Regions from separate parts of the Homo sapiens genome. Here region 1 is linked to region 2. The links come from fine-mapping of genetic effects on gene expression. A gene starts in region 2. The other region holds a variant in brackets. All regions are shown on one strand. Distances are between the middles of the regions. Region 1 overlaps BRSK1 (BR serine/threonine kinase 1). Region 2 holds the start of EDDM13 (epididymal protein 13).

Evidence for each region. PIP is the estimated chance that this variant, and not a neighbour inherited with it, causes the effect.
Region 1: its variant is the best candidate, but not a certain one, in a credible set for the expression of EDDM13 in B cells (Fairfax 2012, PIP 0.54).

What each region holds. Positions count from the first base shown.
Region 1 is chr19:55,296,679-55,311,444 of GRCh38, forward strand. BRSK1 (BR serine/threonine kinase 1) reads left to right here. Exons shown (of 19, transcript NM_032430.2): 8 at 4,834-4,980; 9 at 5,459-5,490; 10 at 6,019-6,189; 11 at 6,633-6,730; 12 at 6,989-7,148; 13 at 7,372-7,432; 14 at 7,873-8,242; 15 at 8,643-8,691; 16 at 8,785-8,908; 17 at 9,574-9,772; 18 at 11,961-12,050. It also overlaps a transcript of TMEM150B not described here. Among named protein-coding and RNA genes, the nearest start is that of BRSK1, 20 kb to the left of the region's middle. RefSeq lists a silencer at 6,563-6,857. The variant TACACACACAC/T (reference allele first, on the strand shown) is at 11,069.
Region 2 is chr19:56,263,052-56,279,155 of GRCh38, forward strand. EDDM13 (epididymal protein 13) reads left to right here and starts at 9,697. Exons shown (of 15, transcript NM_001354658.2): 1 at 9,697-9,868; 2 at 13,041-13,058. The coding sequence starts at 9,784. The region is part of intron 2 of ZSCAN5A (zinc finger and SCAN domain containing 5A); the gene reads right to left. LOC124900420 reads left to right here and starts at 9,697. Exons shown (of 5, transcript XM_047439799.1): 1 at 9,697-16,104.

The DNA of each region.
Region 1 (14,766 bases), 970 kb before region 2:
TACTAAAAATACAAAAAAAATTAGCCGGGAGTGGTGGCGGGCGCCTGTAGTCCCAGCTACTCGGGAGGCTGAGGCAGGAGAATGGTGTGAACCCGGGAGGCGGAGCTTGCAGTGAGCCGAGATCATGCCACTGCACTCCAGCCTGGGCGACAGAGCGAGACTCCGTCTCAAAAAAAATGAAAAAAAAATTAGCCAGGCATGGTGGCACCTGCCTGTAGTCCCAGTTACTCAGGAGGCTGAGGTGGGAAGATTGCTTGAGCCCTGGAGGTCAAGGCTGTAGTGAGCCATGATCATGCCACCGAACTCCAGCCTGGATGACAGAGTGACACCTCGTCTCAAAAATAAATAAATAAATAAGTAATAAGTAGAAAAGAAAAAGAATACATAAGTTTTTTTGTTTGTGTGTGTTTGTTTTTGAGACGGATTCTTGCTCTGTCACACATGATGGAGTGTAGTGGCGCCATCTCGGCTCACTGCAACCTCCACCTCCTGGATTCAAGCGATTCTCCTGCCTCAGCCTCCCAAGTAGCAGGGACTACAGGCATGTGCCACCACGCCTGGCTAATTTTTGTATTTTTAGTAGACATGGGGTTTCACCATTTTGTCCAGGCTGGTCTCGAACTTGACCTCCGCCCGCCTCTTCCTCCTGGAGTGCTGGGATTACAGGTGTGAGCCACCACGCCCAGCCATAAGCAGTTTTTTTAATGTCAGGCACTGTTCTGATCATGTTATTTCACACAATTCCCTCAGCAGTCCCAGGGAGGGGAAGTGACTGGCCCACGGGCACGCAGCTGATAAGCCGCAGGCCTGGGGTCAGTCCTTGGTCTCTTAACCACCAGGCTACATAACGGATACTAAGGGCAATGAGGCCAGCTCCAAGCTGGCTTCCTGGGGCTCACCACTCCATGGGGAGAGCAGCCGAGGTGCTCTGGAGACGAGCTAAGAATGTTCAGAACTCAGCCCTTCTTCACTTGGTGGCTAAAAGCCTGGTTCTGGAGCCCATCCAGCCGAGTTCCAATCCCTGCTCCCTCTCCCTGAGCGAGCCAGTCACCCTACCTCAGTGTCCTCATCTGCACCGTGGAAATACACATCATACCTATCATTGTAAGGGTTTTGTTTTCATTTTTATTTTATCTATTTATTTTTTCATTTTGAGACGGAGTTTCGCTCTTGTCGCCCAGGCTGGAGTGCAATGGTGCGATCTTGGCTCACTGAAACCTCCACCTCCCAGGTTCAAGATTCTCCTGCCTCAGCCTCCCAAGTAGCTGGGACTACAGGCACCTGCTACCATGCCTGGCTAATTTTTTTGTATTTTTAGTAGAGATGGGGTTTCTCCATGTTGGCCAGGCTGGTCTCGAACTCCTGACCTCAGGTGATCCACCCGCCTCAGCTTCCCAGAGTGCTGGGATTACAGGCGTGAGCCACTTCCCCCAGCCCACTGTGAGGGTTTAAATAAATGCTGCACGTGAAGCCCCTGGCACAATGCTTGATGATTATTATTAGTAGTTTATTCTTTTTTTTTTGTTTCTTCTTTTTTTTTTTTTTTTTTTTTTTTTTGAGATGAAGTCTTAGTCTTGCTCTGTAGCCCAGGCTGGAGTGCAATGGCTTGATCTTCTTCGCGGCAACCTCCACCTCCTGGGTTCAAGTTATTTCTGGCTAATTTTTGTATTTTTAGTAGAGATGGGGTTTCACCATGTTGGCCAGGCTGGTCTTGAACTCCTGACCTCAAGTGATCTGCCCACCTCAGCCTTCCAAAGTGCTGGGATTACAGGCATGAGCCACCGCACCTGGCCTAGTAGTTTATTCTTGTTCCAATAGTTCCTCATCATTTGCAGATTCCATATTTGCAAATTTGCCTACCTGTCAAAATGTATCTGTAACCCAAAATAGTCCTGGAGGTGCTTTCACAGTCATTGGCAGACATGCCCAGAGCAGGGGAAACCTGAGCCGCCCACCCAAGGTGCAGGTTTCCGGCTGAGGTCAAACAAAGTGACCCTGTTTCAGCTCTCATCCTGTAAACAATCCCCCTTTCACCACCTATTTCGTGTCACGTTTTTCACATTTTTGTGTTGTTGGTGGCAATTTCGTTGTTTAAAATGGCCATGAAGCCAAGTGCTTCTGAAGTGCCGTCTGGTGTTCCTAAGCGCGGGAGGCTGTGATGTCCCTTCTGGAGAAAGCCCCTCTGATGGGCATGCTTTGTTCAGGAATGACTTGTAGTGCTGCTGGCCATGAGTTCCGCGTCAATGACACAGTACATATGAAAGGTGTCTTTAAGCTGGGTGCGGTGGCTCACGCCTGTAATCCCAGCACTTTAGGAGGCTGAGGCGGGCAGATCACGAAGTCAGGAGTTCGAGACCAGCCTGGCCAATCAGGAGGCTGAGGCAGGAGAATCGCTTGAACCCGGGAGGCGGAGGCTGCAGTGAGCCGAGGTCATGCCACTGCACTCCGGGCTACAGTGCTAGACTCCGTCTCAATAAAAAAAGAAAAGTGTCTTTAAACAGAAACACATACAAACAAGGTCATGTAATGACTGGTTGACAAAAATGTGACGAGAGGGTCAAAGGAAGCTTACTAACTATAGTTCCTCCAGTAGCCGTGACTCGTTCACTAGTTGAGAGTTTGCAGTGACTTTATAGAACAGAACTCTCAAGAATAACAAGAATCAACTGTATTGTTGTTATAATTTGTTTTGGTTTTTTTTTTTGTTTTGTTTTTTGTTTTTTTTGAGATGGAGACTTTCTCTGTCACCTAGGATGGAGTGCAGTGGTGTGATCTCGGCTCACTGCAGCCTCCGCCTCCTGGGTTCAAGTAATTCTCCTGCCTCAGCCACCCGAGTAGCTGGGATTACAGGCGCCCGCCACTTTGCCCGGCTAAATTTTGTATTTTTAGTAGAGATGGGGTTTCACCACGTTGGCCAGGCTGGTGTCAAACTACTGAACTCAAGTGATCCTCGCCCCTTGGCCTCCCAAAGTGCTAGGATTACAGGTGTCAGCCACCATGCCCAGCCTGTTGTTATAATATTTAATCCAGACCGTACCCTTCCTGGCAGGATCATTATGTCCGTTTCACAGAGGAGAGGAAACTGAGGCTCTGTGCTTGAGCATCAGGCAACCAGAAGTCAAACCCAGGCTTCCGCACCCTAAGATCGGCATTCAGAGGTGCCTTCTCTGTATCTCCCCATTCTCCGTCCACAGGCCTCAGATACCAGGGGCAACTGGGAGCTTGCAACACCCGGAAAAGCCCTCAAAGGCTCACACCATCACCTCCCATGAGTCTTTGTCCATGGGGGGTCACCTTGGCTCCCCTCCAACCCTTGCCCTGGTGATTGGAAGCATTCCCTCCCGTCCCGTATGATACGTTCGCTTGTTTGTTTCCTGTCCCCTCTGGAATGCAACTTCTCTGCTCATTCCACCACCTTTGCTGATGACTTGAGTGTCGAGTGTGTGTCAGGCAGCGTCCCAGGCCAACTCCAGGAGGGCAGGGATGTGATTTTGTCCCCTGCTTCATGGCTGGTGGCTACGTCAGAATGCAGGATGTGGTGGGGTCTATGGTCAGTGCGTCACAGCAGCCAGCCTGTAACAGTCCTGACTGTGGGCCCAGCACTGTCATGTACTAGGTCAGTTCATTCTGATGCAGTCCGTGAGGTGGGTGCTGTGACGACCCATTGCCATTTTCAGAGCAGTGACTTGCCTGAGGTCATGCAGGTATAAGCCCCAGAGCAAGGATTCAAAGCAAGGCAGGGGACCAGGTGCGGTGGCTCACACCTGTAATCCCAGCACTTTGGGAGGCTGAGGCGGGCAGATCACCTGAGGTCAGGACTTCAAGACCAGCCTGGCCAACGTGGTGAAACCCCATCTCTGCTAAAAATACAAAAATTAGGCTGGGTGTGGTGGCTCACGCCTGTAATCCCAGCACTTTGGGAGGCTGAGGCAGGTGGATCACTTGAGGTTGGGCATTTGAGACCAGCCTGGCCAACATGGTGAAACCCCGTCTCTATTAAAAATAAAAAAATTAGCCGGGCATAGTGGCATATGCCTGTAATCCCAGCTACTCGGGAGGTTGAGGCAGGAGGATCGCTTGAACCTGGGAGAGGCAGAGGTTGCAGTCAGCCAAGAACACCTCATTGCACATCAGCCTGGGCGACAAGAGCGAAACTCCATCTCAAAAAAGAAAGAAAGAAAGAAAAGAAAAGGTGTCAGCAGGGCCCTGCTTCCTCTGGAGGCTCTAGGGAAGGATCCTTCCTTGCCTCTCCTAGCTTCTGGTGTCCTTGGCGTTCCTTCAGTTGCAGCTGTATCACTCCCATCTCTGCCTCCGTCATCACATGACTGTTCTCTGTGCCTGCGTCCTCGTCTCCTCTTATAAGGACACCAGTCATTGATTTAGGGCTCAGCCTCATTCAGGTCTCTGCTCCCATTGCACCTCCTGGGAGAAGCCTCACTCAGTCGCTCGTCATTGTATAGCTATTTGTTTGGAGCTGTGCAAGGGCAGAGGCCTGTTTTGTTCACTGCTGGATCCCTGACCTGTAACGGATGCTCACCTTTTGTTGAATGAGTGAATGAGAGACAACCGTTTCGAAACTGCTGTGGGGGGAAAGCTGTCTAAAAGGAACAGCCTCCACGCTGCAATTCTAGCTTCGTAAGCGGGGCTCCAAGCTGCTCCTTGCCAAGTGCCTGCTGTGCCACGGACGAGCTAGGGGCCTTTGGCAAATTGCTGAGCCTCTCTGTGCCTCAGTTTCCAACCCCTTAAGGTGGAGATCACCGTAGTTCCCCACCTCCAGTGCTTGTGGTGAGGGTGAAATGTGCTAATGAGGGGTCCTGGTTATCTCTTGCCCAGGGGGCTCTGCCCTTTGATGACGACAACCTCCGCCAGCTGCTGGAGAAGGTGAAACGGGGCGTCTTCCACATGCCCCACTTCATTCCTCCAGATTGCCAGAGCCTCCTGAGGGGAATGATCGAAGTGGAGCCCGAAAAAAGGCTCAGTGTGAGTTGAGGGGGGGACCGGCGGAGGGGGGAACAGTGGCCGATGAAGACAGAACCCCCTAGAAAAGTCATGGGGATGGGTTTCCAGAACCTGCTCGTCAGTCCCCAGGGTGACTGGGATCGCCAGCTGAGCCGCAGCCCAAGGTCCAGCACAGCTGCCGCTCCAAACTGGGGAGGGGGCTACGCAAGATTGGGGCGGGGAGCTCCAGGCAGCGGGAGGGCGCAGGAGTAAGGAGGCGAACAGGATGCCACTGCGCATGCGGCAAAGTAATGCGGCCGGTCCGGGGTACACGGAGACCGCGCGTGCGCGGGGCGATGCACTCAGTCGCCACTAGAGGGCGATGTAATATGTCATCCTGCCCCCGGTGGGGTGGGCGGGGAGATGATCAGGGACCCCAAAACCACCCCAGTCTTTCATTGCGCGCCTACATGTGCCTACGACCTCACTTCTGCTTCTCTACGACTCACCACCCTCACAGCTGGAGCAAATTCAGAAACATCCTTGGTACCTGTGAGTATGGGGTAACTGGACTCTTGGGTCCCTGGCGGAAATAGGGGAGGGGCCAAAGCAGTAGAAGCGGCTGGGAGGGGTGGGATGCCAGGGTTCCTGAGAGGCAACGGGCTAGGGACTCGGACTTATGGGTCCTGGGGGAAGAGGACACAGCTAGAGAAGGAGTCTAGGGGTCAGAGGCAGGAGGGGCTAAGCTAGGAGTCCAGGACTCCCAGGTTTGAGGGAAAAAGGGACTGGGGGCCTGGACTCCTGGATCCGAGGGAGGAGGGGCTGGGGGCCTGGACTTCTGGGTCTGAAGAAGGAGGGGCCGGGGGCCTGGACCCCTCGGTCGGAGGGAAAAGGGGCTGGAGGTCTGGACTCCTGGGTCTGAGATGGGGGGCGAGGTCTGGGGCGTCTGGATTCCTGGGTATGAGAGAGAAGGGGCCGGGGCCTAGACTCGGATTTCGGGGTCCGGGATCATTGAGTCTAGAATGAAGAATGCTGAATCTCAGAAGCCCGGTTCCCAATAATGTTTCTCCACTTCCCCAGAGGCGGGAAACACGAGCCAGACCCGTGCCTGGAGCCAGCCCCTGGCCGCCGGGTAGCCATGCGGAGCCTGCCATCCAACGGAGAGCTGGACCCCGACGTCCTAGAGAGCATGGCATCACTGGGCTGCTTCAGGGACCGCGAGAGGCTGCATCGCGAGCTGCGCAGTGAGGAGTAAGACCCCAAGACCCCTGCACCCGTGTACCCACGTGGGGCGAGCTGCAGCAGCTCCCTGCGCACATGCAGAGTGCTGGGCGAGGAACCCTGGCCTCTCATGGGGCATGGTTTGAAGCTCCCGCCTGGGAGTGATGGAACCAGCGGAGAAAACGGCCCAGAAACACGCTGAGAAAGTATTAATAGATGCTGCGACATAGTACTTACATATACATAGTACTTACAAATAGTTCTTGCCTGGATGTTAGGTGTTACAGTGTTATTATAATTGAGTGAAACACAGCTGAGATGTACCCTAAACCAGAGAAACTGACCATACTGATACCTAGAAAAAATGGAACCATGGGCAGAAATACAGGGAGCGGAGGAGACCTCCTCTGAGCATTGATGTTGGACCTCAGCCCTCTGCTACCTCTTTCCACCTTTCCCACCCCCTGCCTTAGGGAGAACCAAGAAAAGATGATATATTATCTGCTTTTGGATCGGAAGGAGCGGTATCCCAGCTGTGAGGACCAGGACCTGCCTCCCCGGAATGATGTTGGTGAGAAGGCAGGGCTAGGGGACCAGACACCTGGGTCTCGAGATTGGAAGAGGCTGGCCACGGGGACCCCAGATTCCCAAGGAAAGAAGGGGCTGCAGGCTCTGAGCTTCCAGCTTTAGACTGCTTGACTTGCTCTTTGACATTTATCAAATCCCCTCTCCACTCTAGGCCTGTTTCCCCATGTGTGCAGTTTCTGAGGCAGTTGTACACAGCTGGGTGAAACCATCTCTTGATTGGGTTGAAACTGTTGTCCCTCAGACCCCCCCCGGAAGCGTGTGGATTCTCCCATGCTGAGCCGTCACGGGAAGCGGCGACCAGAGCGGAAGTCCATGGAAGTCCTGAGCATCACCGATGCCGGGGGTGGTGGCTCCCCTGTACCCACCCGACGGGCCTTGGAGATGGCCCAGCACAGCCAGAGGTGGGAGCCCCTGTCCCTCCAGGAGGATCCACAATCCCTGGGTCTAGGAGTTCAAGATTCTAACCCCAGCTCTACCTCAAATGTGCTGTGTCCTTGGGACAATTCACCTCCCCTCTCTGGGCCTCATTTCCTCACCTGGAAGGACTGTAGAAGTGAGGGAACATCTGTGGTTTTTGAAACCCTCCCATCTGATTTTTTTTTTTTAAATCTATCCTGGAAACAGATCCCGTAGCGTCAGTGGAGCCTCCACGGGTCTGTCCTCCAGCCCTCTAAGCAGCCCAAGGGTAAGGCCAGGTCCCCAGTGGGATTTAAGAAGGAGAAAGGGGTGGAGACATGGAGCAAAGATTGAGTAGCAGAAACTACAATTCCTGTGCAGTCTTGAGACTTGCTTCTTTGTCCCTGGAGGGCCAAAGACCCAAGGCCTCCAAAGTATTTTGGTCCATTGGCCATTTCTACCTCCTTAGGATTGCATGCCTGAAGAGATTTTACAAAAGTTAGTTGAGTGCCTGCTGTGTACTAGTATCTGCACCGGCTGGGTTTTCAGCCCACAGCATGATAGAAAGTCTTTGCTATCCTTGCTCTGGGGCCTGGGAAGGAGGATACTTGGACTACAAGTTGCAGCATGCACCGGGCCAGCGTCCGTGAGTGTGCGTGTGAGTGGGGCTCCTAGAGCCTCCTGGGAGTTGTAGTCCACTCGCTTATCTCAGTCTCCTGTCCTCTGCAGAGTCCGGTCTTTTCCTTTTCACCGGAGCCGGGGGCTGGAGATGAGGCTCGAGGCGGGGGCTCCCCGACTTCCAAAACGCAGACGCTGCCTTCTCGGGGCCCCAGGGGTGGGGGCGCCGGGGAGCAGCCCCCGCCCCCCAGTGCCCGCTCCACACCCCTGCCCGGCCCCCCAGGCTCCCCGCGCTCCTCTGGCGGGACCCCCTTGCACTCGCCTCTGCACACGCCCCGGGCCAGTCCCACCGGGACCCCGGGGACAACACCACCCCCCAGCCCCGGCGGTGGCGTCGGGGGAGCCGCCTGGAGGAGTCGTCTCAACTCCATCCGCAACAGCTTCCTGGGCTCCCCTCGCTTTCACCGGCGCAAGATGCAGGGTATGGGGGCATGAACTGCCGAGTCCTAATGTGGGGAGAGGTTGGGGCTAAAAATCTGGTTCCAGGGATGTCCGTCTGGCGTGTCTAGAGAGGAAGGGACTGGGGGCCTGGATTCCCACGTTCTAGAGAAGAGGGGGTTTGAAGCAGAGGTGCACCTGTTGGGGAGAGAGGTGGGGCCTCTAGCTCTGGAGGAGGACCCCGATTGAAGGGCACGCGCCTTTGGGGCTCTGGATTACCTCCCATTGGCCCGTGGTTTGTGAGCCCCGCCCAGGAGGGATGGCTTGGCCGAGGCTGCAACCCAAGGCTCTGGAACCCTGGGAGGGGGCGAGTGCAGGCCTGTGTGCTGGCAACTGGGATGATGCACAGGTGTTGACCACGTTCTCTGCCTTCCCCCTACCAGTCCCTACCGCTGAGGAGATGTCCAGCTTGACGCCAGAGTCCTCCCCGGAGTGAGTCTCACAGGGAAGGAAAGAGTGGGGATGCAGGGGATTCATGCCCTCGGCGCCTTCCTAACCCTCCTCCAACCACCCCCTCCCACTCAGGCTGGCAAAACGCTCCTGGTTCGGGAACTTCATCTCCTTGGACAAAGAAGAACAAATATTCCTCGTGCTAAAGGACAAACCTCTCAGCAGCATCAAAGCAGACATCGTCCATGCCTTTCTGTCGGTGAGGGGCCTGGGTCCCCATCGAGCCTGGCCCCCGCAGAACTACAAGTCCCAGCAGCCCCTGGGGCTAACCACCTTAGCATAGGCCTGGCTTCCTCCTGGGGCTCATGGGATTTGTAGTTTTATGGCCAGAGTTGGTTAGAAGTCGGTAGGCAGGAAAGATTTATCGTGGCCAGAGGCCTGGAATTGGGGAAATAGGATCCTGAATTGCAATGTCCTCAAGGATTGGTGAGTTCCCATTCCCCTACTGCGAGGTTTGAAACTAGCCGAAGAAACTTCCCAGGCAATGTTAAGGCTGCCCCATTGCTGGTCTGTGGTTTTATGCCTACGGGTGGATGGGACTTAGAGTTTCTGTGACAGATATGGCTATGGGAAGCATTTGTAAAGGGAGCAAGCAGTGTTTCATGTGGTCTTGGAGTCTGAGGCTGTCACCTAGCTATCAGAGTCCTCATGATGTTAGGGGGATGTCCAACCATTCCTCCCTTACTCGCTGATAGGATAGAGAAAGCTACAAGTCCTTGCAGGCAGTGGGGCCTCCCAATGCATTTCCTGTCCTTCTTTCCCTCCAGTGGCTCATGGGACTCGTAGTTCCTTGGCCAGAGCTGGTCGTGGGGCTGGGTATCCATTTCCTGGGCTCACCCCTTCCTGTGTTCCTACCTCGCTCAGATCCCCAGCCTGAGTCACAGTGTGCTGTCACAGACCAGCTTCAGGGCCGAGTACAAGGCCAGTGGCGGCCCCTCCGTCTTCCAAAAGCCCGTCCGCTTCCAGGTGGACATCAGCTCCTCTGAGGGTCCAGAGCCCTCCCCGCGACGGGACGGCAGCGGAGGTGGTGGCATCTACTCCGTCACCTTCACTCTCATCTCGGGTGAGTCTCTTGGCTAGGCTGCCTGCAGCCCAGTGCTGGGACTGTTCACGACAGCTGAGACAGTGTAGGGGCCCAGGAGTGCAGCAGCAGGAGGAGGAAATGGTGTTCAGCTGGTGCCGACTCTCTGTGCTCCTCCTGCCCACACAGACCGCCCCACAAGCCCATCCTCTATTTCCCCACTCTCATCAGCATTTCCCTGGCATTTACAGTGTAAATAATGAATGCATTATCTCCTTGAAGCTTCCAAGCAGCCTACTGAGGTGTTAGTAATCACCCATTTTACGGAGGAGAAAACTGAGTCATAGGGAGGTCAATGGACTTGGCCAGAGTCACACAATACACTGTCGCAGAGCTGCAGCCCAACCCAGGCCTCCCAACTTCAGAGGAGAGAGCCCAGCTCTTCCTATTACTTTAAGATGGTAGAGCCAAAGGGTGAAGACACAGCACACTGCTGTCTAATATCAGTCTGCCCAGAGCAGACATTACCAATTGATGGCAGTGCTTATTCCTGCTAAGCTCAGTGGCAGCCTCAGGAACTTGAACTCCAGGCAGCCATGACCAGTCGAGGCTTGGCACAAGAAAGGAAAACCACTAAAATACCTTGCTTCCAGTTCTGCTTTCTGTTTGGTCCCTCCATCCTGATAGTGAGCATTTGGATAGGGAGGGATATCGCCGATCTCTTTGTCACCAATATTAATATGTCACAGGTGGGAGAGGGGCTTGCCCCAAAGATTTCTAAACCAAACGGCTGTGGAACTGTGGGTGTTCCGTCACCAAAACCAATTATGACTCTTTATTTTTCTGTCCCCCTTAAAGACTAACATGCAGGCTGGGCGCGGTGGCTCACGCCTGTAATCCCAGCACTTTGGGAGGCTGAGACGAGCAGGTCAGAAGTTCAAGACCAGCCTGGCCAACATGGTGAAACCTGTCTCTACTAAAAATACCAAAATAAGCCTCGCGTGGTGGTGGGCTCCTGTAATCCCAGCTACTCAGGAGGCTGAGGCAGGAGAATCGCTTGAACTCAGGAGGCAGAGGTTGCAGTGAGCCAAGATTGTGCCACTGCACTCCAGCCTGAGCGACAGAGCGAGACTCTGTCTCAAAAAAAAAAAAAAAAAAGGCTAATATGCAGACCTTTCTCAATTTTAAGACTTTTTCTGAGGCCAGGCATGATGGCTGACTCCTGTAATCCCAGCACTTTGGGAAGCCGAGGTGGGAGGATTGCTTGAGCCCAGGAGTTTGAGACCAGCCTGAGCAACATAATGGACCTCATCTCTACAAAACAAACAAAAAAATTTA[TACACACACAC/T]ACACACACACACACACACACACACACACACAATTTAAAAAAAAAAAAAAAGCCCAGCACGGTGGCATGCACCTGTAGTCCCAGCTACTCCAGAGTCTGACGTGGGAGGATCACCTGATTCCAGGAGGTTGAGGCTGCAGTGAGCCGTGATCGCGCCACTGCACTCCAGCCTGAGTGACAGAATGAGACCTTGTCTCAAAAGAAAAAAGAAAAAGAAAAGACTTTCTCCGATTTCTTTTTCTTTTTTTTTGTTGTTGTTGTTGTTTGGTTTTTTTTTTTTTTGAGACAGAGTCTTGCTCTGTCGTCCAGGCTGGAGTGCAATGGCGTGATCTGGGCTCACTGCAACCTCTGCCTCCTGGGTTCGAGAGATTCTCTTGTCTTAGCCTCCCGAGTAGCTGGGATTACAGGCATGCGTCACCATGCCCAGCTAATTTTTGTATTTTTAGTAAAGACAGGGTTTCGCCATGTTGGCCAGGCTGGTCTCGAACTCCTGAGCAACCTCAAGTGATCTGCCCACATCGGCATTCCAGAGTGTTGGGATTACAGGCATGAGCCCCTGTACCTGGCTCCAACTTATTTTTCTTACATTTCTGGTCCTTCATGGCCTCCGCTAGAAACTAACAGCAAGCAATAGTATCTATTTGAATAGAAACCAACACCTGTTATTTGAAGTTGAAGGTATGTGAGTTTGACCGTGATCCTTAAATAGCAGCACAGACCCATTTGCAAACCGTGGATTGATGTGGCCCCAGCGGAGCAGGGGAGACGGAGATGCAGGGGGGGTGTTGTGTGCTTGGTGGAGGGACTGGGTTCTGCAGGCTGGGACGGCCTTCCCGGTCCTGGACCCCCAGTCAGTGTTTTTCTGCCCGCCTGTGCCTCTAGGTCCCAGCCGTCGGTTCAAGCGAGTGGTGGAGACCATCCAGGCACAGCTCCTGAGCACTCATGACCAGCCCTCCGTGCAGGCCCTGGCAGGTGGGTGGTGGGGCCGTGGGTGGTGGGGGGCGTGGGTGGCGGGGGCCGTGGGTGGCGGGGGGCGTGGGTGGCGGGGGGCGTGGGTGGCGGGGGGCGTGGGTGGCGGGGGCGGTGGGTGGCGGGCAGAGGTCCAGCATGAGCAGGTGCTCTGGGGTTTGGTTTGCAGAGGACGCCCAGCTGGTGGGCTCCTTCACCATTGTCGTAGCTGAGGTCTTATCTGCAGAGTTGTGAGCAGGTTCCCCGAGAGGCTGGGGCCTGAGGAGGGTCTCCTTAGCAACCTGAGGACTGGCTCCCAGGAGTCCCTAAGAAGATGACAGGCTCTGTGTTGGGGGTCAGGGAACATCCTGCCAACAGAGGTTCTGGACCTCTGTCCAGGAGGACGGTGACCCACCGTCCTGGTTTGCTTGGGACTGAAGGGTGTTTCTGGGATGCAGGGCTTTGAGTCTAAACCCAGGACAAATTGGTCACCATCTTTGCAGGTCTCACAAGTCACCTCACCCTGGGGCTAGGGCCTAATGGTCCCTAGCAACCAGAATTCTAAGCTGAGTTCATGGGAATGTGCAAGATCTTGCTCTGGGGAATCCGGCCTTCCCGGGCTCCCAGTCCTGGTCATCAAAGACTCAAATTCTCTAGCAATCAGGAGAGCAGAGGGTTTGTTGCAAAGGTGTCTTAGTTCGTTCAGGCTACTATAAGAAAATACCATACACTGGGCAACTTACAAATAACAGAAATTTATTGCTGACAATTCTGGAGGCTGGGAAGTCCAAGATCAAGCTGCCAGCAGCGTTGGTGCCTGGTGAGAGCTGCTTCCTGGGTCACAGACAGCACGTTGGTGCTGTGTCTTCACATGGCAGAAGGGGCAAGGGAACTCTCTGGGGCCTCTTTCCTAAGGACACTAATCCCATTCATGAAGGCCCCACCCTCATGACCTCATCACCTCCTAACATAACCTCCTAATACCATCACCTTGGGATTGGGTTTCAGCACATGAATTTGGGAGGATGCAGTGTTCAGTAGAGAGCATAAGGGGCACTCGCCCAAGCAACCAGAGGTAGCCAGAATTCTCAAGGGAAGAGAGCGCCTGCCCTGGAAATCAGCCCTCATTCCTGAGACACGGGGTCACAGGGGACACAGTGAAACAGGGTACTGGGCCCCATTGCAGGGCACGTGGACAGCCGTCTGCTCTGAGGGGAGTCAGGCAGCATCAGCCTCACAGGACCCATGCCCCTTCCTGGACCCCTGGACCCCGTTGAAAGGAAACGGCCCAGCGTTGAGGCCAGGAGCCAGGGCAGCTTTGGCCTTGTCACCAGAAACTCTGAGTCCCAGGGTCAGGTCTTTTGCTCTGGAGCCGTGGTTCTCAACTAGGGGAGCTGGTTTCACCCCGTGTTTGTTTTCTATGGCCGCCGTCAACAAATGACACAGCCTTGGTGGCTGAAACAACACAAGTGATTTTCGTACAGTCCTGGAGGTCAGAAGTCCCACATGGTCTCTGCAGGCTAACAGGGTGCCTGGAGGGCTGCACCTGGAGGCTCTCTGGCAGAGACTGTTTCCTTGTGTGTTCCAGTTCCTAGGCGCTCTGGTTAAGGCCCGTTCCTCCATCTTCAAAGCCAGTGACGCCATATATCCCTCTGACTGACCTTAGCTGGGAAAAGGTGACTCAGTGGGACCTGCACAGATACTCCAAGATAATCCCCCAACTCGTGGTCCCTCACCTTCCCCACAGCACAGGATCTCTTCTGCTGCATCAAGAAACATAGTCACAAGTTCTCGGTATTTGCATGTGGACATCTTTGGAGGGGGCCGTTATTCAGCCTAGCCCAACCCCCTAGGGACATTTAGTAATGTCTGGAGACATTTTTCCTCCCCTCAACTGGGGAAAACAGGGGGATGCCAATGGCCTCTTGTAGGTGGAGGCCAGGGATGCTGTAAAACACCCTACAATTCACAGAACAGCCCCCCACGACAGCTGGGTCCCAAATGGCAGTCGTGCTGAGGTGCAGAAACCCTCTTTTCTCATGGTTGCTAGGGGCAACCGGAAAGCAAATTAGGTCCACTGGACCCCGTTGCCGAGGAAAGCTGGCCTCAGCAACCAGGGGTCTCAAAACGGGCACACCCTGGAAGATGTAGGACTAACAGGCACCCTGGGGGGCTCAGCCACCATCTCATAAAGGAGAATGGGGTGGGGGGTGCAGGCCTCCGAGTCACCGTGGTTGCTATGACAAGCCCCCCAGTTTTTGTTTTTGTTTTTTTGAGACAGAATCTCCCTCTGTCGCTCAGGCTGGAGTGCAGTGGCGCGATCTCAGCTCACTGCAACTTCCACCTCCCGGGTTTCAAATGATTCTCCCGCCTCAGCCTGTCGAGTAGCTGGGATTACAGGTGCGTGCCACCACACCCGGCTAATTTTTGTATTTTTAGTAGAGACGGGGTTTCACCATGTTGGCCAGGCTGGTCTCAAACTCCTGACCTCAAGTGATCTGCCTGCCTCAGCCTCCCAAAATGCTGGGATTACAGGCATGAGCCACTGCGCCCGGCCCACTCAGTTTCTCTTAAAAGAAAAACGAGGTCTCCGCCACGGGACCTCAGGTAACATCCTAGGCCCCATGGAAATTGCTGGAGACCACCCAGCAACCAGTGTTTCCACCTCAGTCCCCAAGAGGAGGTGGCCTCAGGACCCAGGAGACAGTGACCTGAGTCAGGCTGGCCCAGCATGAGGGGC
Region 2 (16,104 bases):
CCTCACATGCACATCTGAATGATGCCTTGGGACTAGGCAGTGATCCTTTGCCCTTCTTGGGGCCAGGCATACCTCCAATGACTTGGTAACAGCTTCAACTCTTCTTCCAAGAAGATTGCCCACATACTCAACATTTAGCATTGGGCTTCTGGAATGTGGTGATATCTAAGGTTCTTCCAGCTTTGGCCTACATGAGACGGTGAGCTGGGTGAAGTGCATTTTAAGGGCAAGCGCTGAGCTCCAGCTTATGAGGAATAGCCCTCCAATGTGCCAGGAACATGTTATGTGCCCTCTGGAACAAATAATATTTCACTTTTCCGAAAGCCAGAGCTTTGGGATCCCAGATCTAGTAAGAATCATCTTATTCATCTTCCTTTCATCTCCAAGCCAGAAGGAGGCTCGTTGAATTTACAGGGATGGAGTTGCAAAGGGCATTAAGGAATCCTGCATCTATGCTATCAGGACCTACCAGTCCCAAGTGGCTTTGATAGATAAAATGTTCTGAGTGCCTTAACCCAGAAAAACTGCAACTCTAGACCCTGGATGTTCTAAACGACGCAATCAGAACATCTTCCCATATTCTTTGGAAGAAACTCTAACACTTTCCTCTTTCTACTTCTACCTAAAACATCTGAAAGAAGGGAGGCGAGAGAGGAGAGAATTATGCATTTAAACAAAGACAAGGAATTGCGAAAATCACCATTTTTAAAGAAGTATAGATTTCATAAGAACCTCTGAGATGATGATAATGCATGATAATAACATGTAATAACAATAATTATAATAGTATTATGCTTCTATGAGCCATATAAATATTATATGCTATACATATTGCTAAGTGTTTTACAACCTTCACCTCATTTATTTCCCCCTAAAAGTCTATGATTTTATGTAAGAGGAAAATGAAGCTCCAAGAAAAACTTTTTTTTTTTTTTTGAGATGGAATCTCGTTCTGTCACCCATGCTGGAGTGCAATGGCATGATCTTGGCTCACTGCAACAGCACTATCTTGGCTCACTGCAACCTCCGCCTCCCAGGTTCAAGCAACTCTCCTGCCTCAGCCTCCTGAGTAGCTGGGATTGCAGGCACCCGCCACCTCACCCAGCTTAATTTTTTGTATTTTTAGTAGAGATGGGGTTTCACCATGTTGGCCAGGCTGGTCTCGAACTCCTGACCTCAAGTGATCCACCTGCCTCAACCTGCCAGTGTTGGGATTACAGGCATGAGCCAGCACACCCAGCCCAAGAAAGACTTTTTGGACACTATCTCAGGGTAAGGGAGTAGCAGGATTGGGATTTACACCTGGATCTGACTCTCAAGCTCATGCTCATTCCACTACAGAAAATGACCTGTTTGTTCAGGTCTTCCTATTAACTGAGATCTTCCATCTTCCAGGAATGATGCAGTACATTCCAAGAAAGATGTGTTATGGAAGTGACATCAGATCTGAATCCTGAAGTCAAAGTTTCATTTAGTAGAAATCAAGGTAAGATGAGGAAGTGTTGGGAGACTGGACTATGAAGTATGAAGAGTCTGTATCAGAGGCTGGCAAACTATAGTTGACCATTTGTTTTTATAAATAAAGTTCTATTGGAACATAGCTAGCTCCCCTTGCTTATGTATTGTCTCTGGTGGCTTTCTCACTACAGTGGCAAAGTTGAGTAATTGCGACAGGGACCATATGGCTAACAAAGACAAAAATAGTTACTATCTTGCTCTTGACAGAAAAAGTTTTCCTACTCTTGATCTAGGTCACACTAAAGCTTTTAGTCATAAATGCTATCCTAGGGCTGGGCGCGGTGGCTCATGCCTGTAATCCCAGCACTTTGGGAGGCCGAGGCAGGTGGATCACTTGAGGTCAAGAGTTCAAGGCCAGCCTGGCAGACATGGTGAAACCCCGTATCTACTACAAATACAAAAATTAGCCAGGTGTGGTGGCAGGCGCCTGTAATCCCAGCTACTCGGGAGGCTGAGGCAGGAGAACTGCTTGAACCTGGGAGGCGGAGGTTGCAGTGAGCTGAGATCACACCACTGCACTCCAGCCCGGGTGACAGAGTGAGACTCCATCTCAAAAATAAATAAATAAATTAAATAAATGCTTATCCTGTATGTAATGTTGAGCCATGGAAGGATTTGGAGTAGGGGAGACACATGGGCTTATTTCAGAATTACAAAAAAACCATTCTCAGATCCATCCTAGCACAGGGCACTCCCATGATAAAGGCATCAACAACACAATTCCAAACCATCTTCACTTCTCAATCTTTCACCTTGAATACCATTTCAACAAATATTAATTGAGCATCTAGTATGCACCTATACTCTATGTAAGTGGTTAAAGCTGTAAGCAAGCAGTAAGGCTTGAAACTTAAAGCTGGTGGAAAGTAAACTGAGGAAGTGAGCTTTCTCTTTGAGAGATCCAATGGAAGGAAGACTATGTACAGAAGGACAGCAGCCAGAGGTTGCCTTAGAACACAAACAGAGCTGAACTTCTTGAATCAAGCAGGTTTTTTGGGTTCCAGTGGCAGAAACGGACTTTGGCTAGCTTAAAAGAGAAATCACTGGAAGGAACTGGCAAAGGGGTGGAGTTCAAAGGATTAAAGTGAAGGCTGGAGAGTGGGTTTGGGAAAGAGTGAAGCCTGGGAAACCAAGAGATTTCTGTATCATGAGCCACTCAACACTCTCACCTGAAAAGCATTAAATCTGCTTCTTCCACTCTTGCTTTACTCAATTCGAGATTTAAAGTGCCAGGTAAGCAGTCTGATTAGCCTGGCTTAGGACAAAGGTTGGTTGGCTTTAGTGTAAAAATAAGGATCTGGTGCAAGGAGCTTTGAGGGACCCTGCTTGCTTTTCATTATGAGAAAATGGGCACGTGCATTAACTATCCCACCAGGACCACATACAGTGGAGCAGAGGTAATTCTTCCAAAGGAAATCAGGGTATAGAGACTTAGCAGCTAAACAAGTTCACAAATGTCAATCATACCTGTATAGATTCAAATCCTACCTCTTCCAATTATTGGCTTTGTTGACTTTGGGCAAAGTTATCTCATTTGCAAAGAGAAATTATAATACTACCCAGCTCTTAAAATTATGAGCTAATAGATATGAAGTGCTTAGAACCACGTCTGGCACATCATAATCACCCAATTAAGCTTAACTGCTGAGAGTATTATGATTATTACTGCATGCTTGCTAAAAATAGCACCAAGTGATAGAGCCCACGGTGAGATCTAGGCCCTCATTCCAAAGCTCCCGCTCTTTCTGCCAAGCCAAGCTGCCTTTGCAGATCCAACCTCAGTTAAATGAGATGATAATGTGTGTGAAGTTGTTGGGGCAGGTGCCCAAAGAGGATGCTCAATTACTGTCCAAGACTTTCTTCCTCTCTCCCCAAAGAAGTGAGTAGGCTTAGGCTTTGCTTTCTGCTTGGGAGATGCCCCCACTTTTTTTTTTTTTTTTTTTTTTGAGATGGAGTCTCACTCTGTCACTGAGGCTGGAGAGCAGTGGCGCGATCTCGGTGCCTGGTTCAAGCAATTCTTCTGCCTCAGCCTCCCGAGTAGCTAGGACTACAGGCACCTGCCACCATGCCCGGCTAATTTTTTGTAATTTTAGTAGAGACGGGGTTTCACCATGTTACCCAGGATGGTCTCGATCTCCTGACCTCGTGATCCACCTGCCTTGGCCTCCCAAAGTGCTGGGATTACAGGCGTGAGCCACGGTGCCTGGCCGGAGATGCCCATATTTAATAGAGAACCAAGTGGGTGTAAGAGGGCCCAGGGAAAGCAGACAAAGAGGAATGTTCCTGGTTTGTGCTTACTATCATTCTCACGGCGGAGCCCACTCAGGTTTGTTGACAATCTGGCCCCTGCCTACCACTCTAACCTCTCCTCCCTCCACATTCCCATGAGCTTACCCTGCTCCATCCACAATGATCTTCTTTCTGCGTGTCAAATTCCTTCTGCTTTTTTCTGCCTCGGGGTCTTTGCACAAGCTGTTCCCTCTGTCTAAGCTACTCTTACCCCAGATCTTCATTAGGATCTAAACTCAAATGTGACCATCTCAGTGAGGTCTCTCCTGACAACTCTAGCTACGGCAGCATCTCAACCCCATCGGTCTCTAACACATGGCCCTATTTCAGTTTCTTTGCAGCAATGACCAGTACATGAAATTATATATGTGTTTGTCAATATTGTTGTTTGTCTTCCTACACCAGACTATAAACTCCACAGGGTTAGAGAAAGTGCATCCCCAACACCGAGACTGCTTGGTTCACAGAGGGTGCTTTTACACATATGGCTCTGTCAGAACTGTCATAGCAACCCTGTTAGGTATATAGTCTATTAAGGCTGAGAGGCGCTTAGTATCATGATTTAGAGCAGCACTGTCCAATATATGTAGCTATTTAGATTTACCACGTAGCTATTTAGATTTACATGCTTCATAATGAAATAAAATGAAAACTTCATTTCCTTAGTTGCATTAGCGTCACCTCAAGTGCTCAGCAGCCGCACGTGGCTAGTGGCCACCATTCTGGGTAGCACGGATACAGGACATTCCTATCACTGCAGAAAGTTCTACTGGACAGGGCTGGTTTAGAGCATTCACTGCAGATTCATATACTTAGCTTCGAATCCCAGTCCTGCCAATTACTAGTGGTGTGATTCTGAGTGGACCTTATGCTTTTAGATCTCACTTTTTTCATCTATAAAATGACGCTAATAACAGTTCCCATCTCATAGTGTTGTAGGAGTTATTATAGGCAAAGGCTCTTAGAAGAGCATCTGGGATGTAGTCAGTGCTAGAAAAAGTATCGACTGTTGCTATGACACCTCCATTTTTACTCCCTGAGAAACTGAGGTCCAAAGAAAAGAAATCCTTGTCCTAGTGCACACAGCCAGGAGGTGGAGGGAGCTGAGGTTTGATCCCGCACCTCTATGATTTCAGAGCCTGGCTAAATCCGATGACACTTTTCAGGTCCCTTCTGGGAAAAATCCCTGAAACTTCTGACCCATTGCTCCCTTATCTGTTTAGTGGGGGACAGAAGACTCCAAGGGCTCCTCTATCTAGGATAGATGTGAAGGAACTGACTGGAGAGCCAGCCAGAGCCCAGGACATGGGTTGTCTATTCTAGGACCTAGTCAGTGGCTTGGGACTCCTTGGGGGTTGGGAAGCCAGGCTGCCCAGGACACAGAAGCATTGGTGTGGCTGAGCCAGTCATGCCAGCTGCAGCCGAGACCCCTTGTGTGGGCGCTGCCCCTGTGGGTGTAATGGCCCCTGCGGCAGGGACAGAATGCTCATCCCTCCCACCTGCTCAAGCTCTGGGACTGCCCCAGGAACTGTACAGAGGGGTTGAACTATTTCCACTTGTTTCCCTGTAGAAGCCTCAGATGCTGCTGCTGCTGCTGCTGGTTTAATTTTTAAATTTAGTTACTTTTAATACTTTTTAAATTTAGTTACTTTTAATATGCACAGTCCCTATGCTTGTACTGTTTTCTTTGTTTTGTTTTGGTAACATGGGATTTTTAATTGCTATTTTTAGAGCTTTTAACACATTTTTCTACATTTAAAACTTTTTTAATTGAGGTAAAATTCATATGATATAAAATTAACCATTTTAAGTGTACAATTCAGTGGCCTTTAGTGCATTCTCGATGTTGTTCAACCGTCACCCACATCTAGTTTTAAAACACTTTCCTTACCCCTCACCCCATCTCACTAAGCAGCCATTCCTCTTTCCCTCCCCATTCCTAGTCCCCGACAACCACTATCTACTTTCTGTCTCTAAGGATTTACTTGTTCTGGATATTACGTATCAATGGAATCATACACTAGGTAGTCTTTTGTGTCTGGCTGCTTTTACTTTGCATAATATTTTCAAGGTTCACCCATGTTCTAGCATGTATCAGTACTTGATTTCTTTTTACAGTTGAATAATATCCTATTATATGGCTATACCACACTTTACCCATTAATCTATTGATGGACATTCGAATCATTTCCATATTTTGACTCTAGTGAATAGTGTCGCTGTGAACATTCGTGTGTGAATATTTGTGTAATTACCTGTTTTCCGTGCTTTCGGGTACATACCTAGGAGTGGACTTTCAGGGTTATACGGTAGCCCTATATTTAACTTTTTGAGAAACTGCCAAACTATCTTCTACAGGGGCTATACCAATTTACATTTCCACCAGCAATGTATAAGAGCTCCAATTTCTCCACATCCCCTCAATATACTTTAAAACATTCACAATTATATGGCATAATAATATAATAATTAATGATAATAATTGTTGCTATCATTAATAGGAGGAAACCGAGGCTCAGGGATATAGTCAATTGAGCAAGTTTATGCATCTGTGAGGCAGGCAGAATAATTGTCCCTGAAGATACCCACATCTGACTCCTGGAACCTGGGAGTGTGTTACTCTCAGATGTGATAAAAATAAGACTGTTAATCAGCTGACCTTGTGGGGAGATTATCCTGGATTACTGGGGTAGGTCCAATGTAATCACAAAGGATCTTGTAAGTGAAAGAGGGAGGGAAATGGGTAACAGAGGGAGACGGAATGATGAAAACAGAGAATCAGAGCAATGTACGGTGAGAAAGACTTGACCGGCCATCGCTGGCCTGAAAATGGGAGAGGGTTGGAGAGAGATTTGAAGACGCCATGCTGTTGGTTAGGAAGATGAAAGAGGCCGACCAGGAGTCAGGAATGTGGGCAGCCTGTAGAAGCTGCAGAAGGCAAGGAAACAAATTCCTCCTAGAGCCGGCAGAAGGAATGTAGCTTTACCAAGGCTTTTCACTCTATCAACCCATTTCAGACTTCTCAATTCCAGAACTGTATGATAATAAATCTATGTCGTCTTAAGTCACAAATTTTATGGTAATTTGTTATGGTAGCAAGAAGAAACTCAGGCCAGCCGTAGTGTGGTGGGGCAGGGATTGGCATCCACACTGGATTGACTCAATGTCTGTGATTCTAACTGATTGGCTGTCTGTGACTATAACAACCAGGTTTTTTGCCGTCTCCAGGTCCAGCACCACTTCCCTGCTCCACATAGACATGAGTGGATCTCACAAACATCACGCTGGGTGAAAAAAAAAAAAAAGATCCCAGCACTATGGGAGGCCGAGGTGGGTGGATCACGAGGTCAGGAGTTCGAGACCAGCCTGGCCAACATGGTGAAACCCTGTCTCTACTAAAAATACAAAAATTAGCCAGGTGTGGTGGCGCACGCCTGTAATCCCAGCTACTCAGGAGGCTGAGGCAGGAGAATCGTTTGAACCCAGGAGGCGGAGGCTTGCAGTGAGTTGAAATCGTGCCATTGCAATCCAGCCTGGGCGACAGGGTGAGACCCCGTCTCAATAAATAAATAAATAAATACATACATAGCTAGCAAGTTGTGCAAGAAAGATTCAGTGAAACACCATTTAGAATAAATGTAAAAACACACAAAATAATATTACATACGTGTACTGGAGCCAGCTTATGAGGGTCAATTGTTAACGTTTTCAGTTTTCTACATTTAAAACATTTTTAAATTGAGGTAAAATTCCTCATTTTAGCTGCTTGCCTAACATAGCCCAATACTCAAAACTAAATTGTATAAACTTGAACATAAATAAGTTATAATAAAAATAGAGTAATAAGCACTAAAAGCTCATCACTTCCTAGTTGTGGCTCCCCAAACATGGTGGCGGTGGTGGTTGGTGTGGGGTGGGTGGGGCAGGTGCTACTGTGTAATTGATAGGGACCAGAGATGTTGCTAAATATCCCACAAAGCGGAAGACAGCCCCCACCACAAAAACGATCTAGTCCTAAATGTCAGCTGTGCCAATGGTGAGAAATCCTGATCTTCCCTAAAGCATGAGTTCCTCATGAGCAAGGCCAGTATCTGACTCATCTCTGTCCCCAGATCACAGTCTGGCAGAGCAGATAATGCTAAAGAATATTAATGATGTTCTACATCCCAGGCATTTGTTGCATTTAAACCCTAGTGTTATGAGTTAGGGACTGTGATTATATTTGATAAAGCAAAGAAACAGCTGTGCTGGTAATGAGGCTGCTAAGGAAGGATGGAAAATCGAAACGTAGGACTAATCAGAGAAATCCAAATATGCTCCCCCAACCAATCACAATGGCCTCTAATTAACCACTGCCAGCTTCCTTATGCCAACGGCCTCCAACCAGGCACTCTTGAAGCCTTCCCTTTCTTTCACTATAAGCTTTCCCACTACCCTGCCTGCCTTTGAGTCTGTGCCAAACACAAATGGTGTCAGTGGCCTCCCTTATTACAGCAAGCTCTGAATTAATAGCCTTTGCTTGTTTTCATTGGGTGGTCTTTACTTCCGCATAGCACCGGATGTGAAAAGCCTTCCACATGTTTTACGCCTTGTTTCTTCTGCTCATTATAACAAATCCTGTAGTATCACGTTTTCCCGGTGATGAGTTGCCAGGACCATGTGCTCACAAAGGAGGGGAGCTCTGAAATATGGCAAATGGCCAACAAGAACTCTCTCCTCCAGCCTAGTCTGAAGGATCGCTGAGGTATCCCCTAATGTACATGAGATGGTCCAGCTTGTACTAGGGATTGAAACATAGATAGCACCAGAGATGGCGGCAGGAGAGAGTCCCCTGCAAGAGTGGACATCCCTCCACACCTGGAACTCTTTCCTTCCAGGACACTACACACAACCCTCTGTTTCTATCAGGCTTGAAGGAAGTACCATAGAAACCTTCAGAGCTTAGATAGACCAGTGGTCTCTACACTCTGCCTTTATTCCAGGAGTCCAGAGGGATACTGGGTCAAGTTCATATTCCCACTGACAGCTAAAGTTCTTGACTGTCAAAGCAATTTCTAAGAATTACCAGTGGAAACAGTTAGTTCCCTGTGGCTGCTATGAAAAATTATTACAAACTTAATGGCTACAACAGTACAAATTTACTATCATACAGGTGTGATATGATAGTATCACATTAGCCTGGAAATATCATTATCCCAACTTTATAGATCAAGAAAATGAAGCACAGAGTGGTTAAGTAACTTGCTCAGGGTACATAGCTAGTAAGTGCTAGAGGTAAGTATAAACGTAGACATCTTTGGAAAGGAATATACACAAAAATGTAAAAACAATACTTACTTCTGAGTAGAAATACGATAGATGTTGTTTGCTTGCTTTGTTGTTTTTCTGAAATTTACAGTACGTCTAGGACAGGGGTCCACAAACGTTTTCTATAAAGGGCCGGACAGTAAATATTTTAGGCCTTTTGGCCCAGATGGTCTCTGTCACAACTACAAAGCTCAGTCTTGCAGCCTGAAAGCTGCTGTAGACAATACATAGTGAAATGGCATGGCTGTGTTCCAATAACACTTTATTCATGGACACTGAAATTCACATTCTATATAATCTTCATGTCATGAAATATTTTCTTTTGTTTTTTCCCTCCAACCATTAAAAAAGGTAACAATTACTCTTAGCTCATAGGCCCTACAAAAACAGGAGGAGGGCAGGATTTGGCCAGCAGATCATAGGATGACAAGCATCACACTCAGCATGAAACTGTTCTAAAATGTTGCTTTAAGATGAAAAAGCAGATACAGTTCTTTGGTCAGCAGTTGGTGGCGTGGGCACAGGTCTGGAGACCTGCCAGCCTCCAGGCAGGCTAGAGGGCAGGTGTGGGCAGTTAGTTTTGTCCCTGGAGCCTGGGAAGACGGTGGGTGACCAGAGAGTCCTGTCTATCCTAGGAGGAGAACATTCAGCCCAAATCCCAGCCCCATCATGCACAGATCAGAGCCATTTCTGAAAATGTCGCTGCTGATTCTGCTTTTCCTGGGATTGGCAGAAGCCTGTACTCCTCGTGAAGGTAATGCTTCCAGCCATGCCTTGTGTCCTCTATGTATTTTCTTACAACTTGGGAGGCTCTTGTGGGCTGGATTCAGAGAGAAGCTCCTGAAGTCTAACAGACTTCTTCTTGCTTCCCATTTAGACATTCACATTTCCCTTGATGGACACAGTGGGGTGAATGAGTCTAGGTTGCTAGCCCCTGCCCTTGGAGATACACTTGTGTCTGCATCCTGGTTTCTATCACTGATTCTGTGACTTTGGGGAGACACTGCGTCTGCAAACCTTGCTGTCCTCATCTGACCAACGGGGCTCACAAGAATCCCCAGTTCATGGGACTGTTGCATGTCATTGACGAGCTTACGTTGTGCAGTGCCTGGAAGTCAACATTACCATAGTTAGATAATTCTAGTGAGACTCCAGACTTTTGCGACGTAAAGACACCAAAGAGTATATTGGGAAGAGGACTTGGGTCTTGCCATAACTCTGAGTTCCCATTTCCTCATTCGATCCACAAATGTTTATTCCTGGTTCTTTCCACGGGCTTGATGCTGGGAATATAGTGATGAAAATAGTTCTGTCTTCATGGAATTCTCATGCTAAACACACACATTCTAGTGTGGGGATTCGGAGATGGCCTCTCTAGAAAAGTCACATTTGAGGTAAGGAATAGGAGCTGGCCAGCTGAAGAGTTAGGAGAGACTATTCCAGGCAGAGACTTGAATATGCAAAGGTCCTGGGGCAGAAGGCACTGAGTCCCTCCATCAGAGAGAGGCCGGTGTGTCAGGAACGTGGTAGGCAGAAGGAGGGGCATGGTGGTGAGACTGTTACAAGTAAGAAGAGACAGGAGGCAGGAAACAGAACAGACGGGGGCATGTGAGTCACAGGAAAAATGTTGGATGTTATCCTCAGGGAAAAGGAAGCTGTGAAAGGGTTTTCAGCAAAGGAGTGTCATATTTAGGAGCGTGTGTGTGCATGTATGTGTGTTTCTGTGTGTTTAAACAATGTGTCTTGCCCTCAGGAAAGAATGGATTAGGTGGGAATCAGATTAGGGGCAAACACACAAGTTAGAAAACGTTTTGGTCATCAGGGTGAAGATGGGGATAAGTAGAAGGTTACGAGGCACTGAGGAAACAGCTCACAGGATTGAGTGATGGGTCAGATGCTGGTGGTTGGGGATAGAGAAGCATGCAGAAAGGCTCTCTTTATACATACATGTATTTGCAACTGGGGAATTGAGGCTGCCCTTAACTGAGATGAGAAAACTCTGTAGAGGTCGGGCGCGGTGGCTCACACCTGTAATCCCAGCACTTTGGGAAGCCAAGGCAGCTGGATTATTTGAGGTCAGAAGCTCAAGACCAGCCTGGCCAACATGGCGAAACCCCATCTCTACTAAAAATACAAAAATTATCCAGGCATGGTAGTAGGGGCCTGTAATCCCAGCTACTCAGGAAGCTGAGGCAGGAAAATCGCTTGAACTCAGGAGGTGGAGGTTGCAGTGAGCCGAGATCCTGCCATTGCACTCCAGCCTGGGAAACAGAGCAAGACTCTGTTTCAAAAAGAAAAAAAGAAAAAAAAAAAAACTCTGTAGAGGAACACGTTTTTTAAAAAATTTATTTTGAAATTATTTTAGACTTGAGGAAAAGTCACAAAAATTAAGTTTCTGAATATTCTTCACCCAGTTATCTCAGCTGTTAACATCTTACCTAACCATAGCACAATGACTAAAAGCAAGACCCAACACCAGAACAAAACTATTAAAGAAATTACAGACCTCATTCAAATTTTACTAATGTTTCTACTAATAGAAAAACTATTCTATTTGAGGATCCAATCCAGGATCCCACCTTGTATTTTCAATTAAGTTTTTTGTTTTGTTTTGTTTTGTTTTGTTTCAGAAAATCCAGCTCTTGCTCAACCATGTTGCATTTTGTTATCCCATCTCCTTTGGTCTTGTGATTTGTCCTTAGGATGTGTGATTGAACCTCCTCAATCTTTGTCTTTCACGACCCTGAAACATTTGAAGAGCTCTGATCAGTTGTTTTGCAGAATTTCTCTCAATTTGGGTTTGTCTGAAGCTTTCTCATGATTGGATTGAGACTATGCATTTAGGGCAGGAATACCACAGAAGTGGTCTCACACCCTTCCCCGGGAATTATATCAGGGACCACATGATGTTGATGTGTCTTATTACCCATGGTGTAAACTTTAGTCCCTCGGCTAAGGTGGTGTCTGCCAGGTTTCTCCACTGTTAAGTTACTATTTTCCCCCTTTGTAATTAATAAATACGCTGGGGGAGAAATTTTGAGGCTATGCGAATACCCTGTTCTCCTCCAATTTTTGCCCATTAATTTTAGCATCCATCTGTGGATCTTGCTGCAGAAATGATTGCTACAGTGCTTCTCCAATGGTGATTTTCTATTCCCCTTATTCATCTACATATATTCAATGGCCTTTCTCTGTAAGGAAAAGCTGACTTTTCTTCTCCATTTATTTATTCAAGTACTGTATTTATTTATATCAGCGTGAACTCAGGGATATTTATCGTATTGGTTGGGTGCAGTGGCTCAAGCCTTTAATCCCAGCACTTCGGGAGGCCAACGCAAGAGGATCACTTGAGGCCAGGAGTTTGAGACCAGCCTGGGCAACATAGTGAGACTCATCTCTACAAAAAATAGTAAGAATAAATAAAAAGTATTGCATTAACAGATTATTTTTTGATGGATAGGAGTGTGATGACCACAGATTCTTTTTTGAACAGGCTAAGCTTGAAGCACCTGTAAGATGTTTGGGACATCCATAGATAGCAAGTTCTGTGAGAACAGAGTTTGGGGTGTCTAGTGTACTCTTATACCAGAACTTCTCTTCCCAATCAGCCTTGCAAATACCTACAGAGCAGGGGCTGAATCTGATTTATCTGCGTCTCCAACACCAAACATGGGCCAATGCCCAGAGCATGTACCATGTGAATGTTGGTTGGATGGATGATGAACGAATGGACTTATCGATGGATGGATGGGCTGATAGATGGGCCCGAGTAGCTTTATTGATAGCAGTGAGTGGGTCAGCTGATCTCCAGGGACACTTCTATCTCTGGTCTTCTTGGTTATTGCACTGATCTGAGTCTAATGCTAATTTCTCTCTCTGCTCCCTGCTCCCGTTGTGAACTGGCTGGCTGATGCTTTTGTCTCCAGTTGCAACTAAAGAAAAAAGTAAGAACCGTGGAACCCCCAAGTCTGTATTTTCATAGCTACCTCTCCTAAAATTCTTTTCGATCTTGCAACCTCTCTGGCAATTCTGGGGAAGGGTGGCACTTGGATCTGGTGCACAGACCTGCCATGGGGTCTGGACATGACTCAGAAAAGCAAACCTATTGTTTGCTTACAGTGATGCTCACAACTAAAAGAGCAGCCCTCCTTCACTCCTTTGTCTGGGGAAGAGAGGCCTATTCGGAAAATGAAGAGCATTTATCAGGGAAGAGAGACTTCGGGCAGATCTCCATTAGAATAACACCTTGGCTTATGTTTAACACCAGCTGGTGGTTTGCAAACTTCATGGTCTTAGGGCCACTGAACACGCGAAAAAAATTATTAAGGATCTAAAGAGCTCTTTTTTTTTTTTTCCAGTGAGGGTTATTTTTATTTATTTATTTATTTTTGAGACGAGCCTCGCTCTGTCGCCCAGGCTGGAGTGTAGTGGTGCGATCTGGGTTCACTGCAACCTCTGCCTCCTGGGTTCAAGCGATTCTCCTGCCTCAGCCTCCCGAGTAGCTGGGACTACAGGCTGCGCGCCACCATGCCCGGCTAATTTTGTATTTTCAGTATAGACGGGGTTTCACCATGTTGGTCAGGCTGGTCTCGAACTCCTGACCTCAGGTGATCCGCCCACCTCGGCCTCCCAAAGTGCTGGGATTACAGGTGTGAGCCACTGTGCCCGGCCAAAGGTTATCTTTATTGATATTTACCTTATTGTAAATTCAAGGATTTTTAACTTAAAAATATTTATATTTACAAATATTATAAATATTTACAAATACAAATACTTATATTTACAAAAACTATTTCTATTTACAAATAAGCACATAAAAAGATGCTCAACCTCATTAGCCATCAGAAAAATGGAAGCCAAAGCCACAGTGAGGTATCACTTCACACTAACTAACGTGGAGAAATCAGAACCCTCATATGCTGCTGGTGGGAATGTGAAATGATACAGCTGCTTTGGAAAACAGTCTGGCTGTTCCTCAAAATGTTAAACACTGAGTTACTCAGCAATTCCGCTCTAGGTATGTGCCCAAGATAAATGAAACGTAAGTCCACACAAAAACCCATGCACAAATGTTCACAGCAGCACTATTCCTAAGAGCTAGCAAGTGAAGGTAATCCTAGCATGCATCCATTAATGAATGGAGAAACAGAGTGTGGTCTATGCATACAATGGAATATTATTCACCCATAAAAAGAAACAAAGTTCTGATGCATTCAACATCGTGTGTGAGCCTTGAAAACATTATTCTCAGTGAAAGATGCCAGTGATAAAAGATCACATATTACCTGATTCCGTTTACCGTATATGAAATATTCAGGATAGGCAAATCCATAGAGACACAATGGACATTAGTGATTTCCAGGGGGTGAGGGGTGGGGGAATTTAGAGACAATGACTAAGGGGTTCAGGGTTTATTTTGGGGTGATTAAAGCCTCTAAAACTGGTGTAGTGATGGTCGTACAAGTCTGAGTATCCTACAAACCACTGAAATGGGTGAATTGCATGGTATGTGAATTATATCTCAGTAAAGCTATTATTCAAATATCTATTACTGCATTAAAAAAATAAGGATAATAGAGACTCAGAAGGAAGGAGGGTGGCAGGGAGGTGAGGGATGAAAACTACCTTTTGGGTACAATGTACATTACAAAGATGCTGGTGCACTAAAATCCTAGACTTCACCACTGCACAATTCATCCATGTCACCAAAAACCACTTGTACCCCTAAAGCTACTGAAATTAAAAATATTTGAAAAATAAGGATAATAAATATACATACTGACATAAATAAAATGTTTTAGTGAAATGGCTGTTTCCAAACCAAAAAAGTTTAGTAAGAAAGGTATTATTTTACATTTTTGCAAATCTCTTTGATGTCTAGTTTAATAGAAAACAGCTGAATTCTCATTTCTGCTTCAGTCTGTCACAATGTGCTATTTTTTTTTTTTTTAGCTTTATGTGTTTGTTTATTTTGGAGACGTAGTCTTGCTCTGTCGCCCAGGCTGGAATACAGTGGCACGGTCTCGGCTCGCCATGACATCTGCCTCCTGGGTTCAAGCAATTATCTTGCCTCAGCATCCGAAGTAGCCTCCCAAGTAGCTGGGACTATAGGTGCATGCCACCATGCCTGGCTAATTTTTGTATATTTAGGAGAGACAAGGTTTCACCATGTTGGCCAGGCTGGTTTTGAACTCCTGACCTCAAGTGATCTGCCCACCTCGGTCTCCCAAAGTGCTGGGATTACAGGCGTGAGCCGCCCCGCCCAGCCACAATGTGCTATTTTGGTTGAAGCAAATGAAAATCTAATCTCACACAGATAAGGAGTTGGAAAAGGGAAGATCATGCAGACCCGTTTTAGGCAGAGTTCTCCAGAGAGACAGAACCATGAAGATATACATATAGATACATATATAGATAAAGATATTGATAGAGATATTTGAGAACAAATTTCTTAGGGGAATTAGCTCACTCAGTTGTGGGGTCTGCAAGCTGCAGAACCAGGAGGGCCAGTAGTGTGGCTCAGTCCAAGTCTGAAGGCCTCAGAACCAAGGAAGCTGATGGATGGTCTAACTAACTCTCAGTCTGAGGCCAATGGCCTGGGAGCTCAGGGAGCTGTTGGTTCAAGTCCTAGAATCCCAAAAGCTGGAGTACCTGGAGTTCTGACATCCAAAGCCAGGAGAAGGGCATCCCAGCTGCAGAAGGGAGAGCAAGAATTGACCCTTACTCCACCTCTTGGCTTCAGCTGGGCCTCCATCCAACTGGATGGTGCTCACCCACCGTGAGGGTGGATCTTCCCTACCTAGTCTTCCAACTCACACCCCAATATCCTCCAGAAACACCTTCACAGACACACCTGGGGCAGCCCAAACATTCTAATCAAATGCCAAACCACTCAGGCTTCCCTTTCAGCAGAAGACGGATGGACTCAGTGCCTACTGAAGCATTGAGAATAAACGTCTTACTGCTATATGGGTGCCTTAGTCAAGCTGA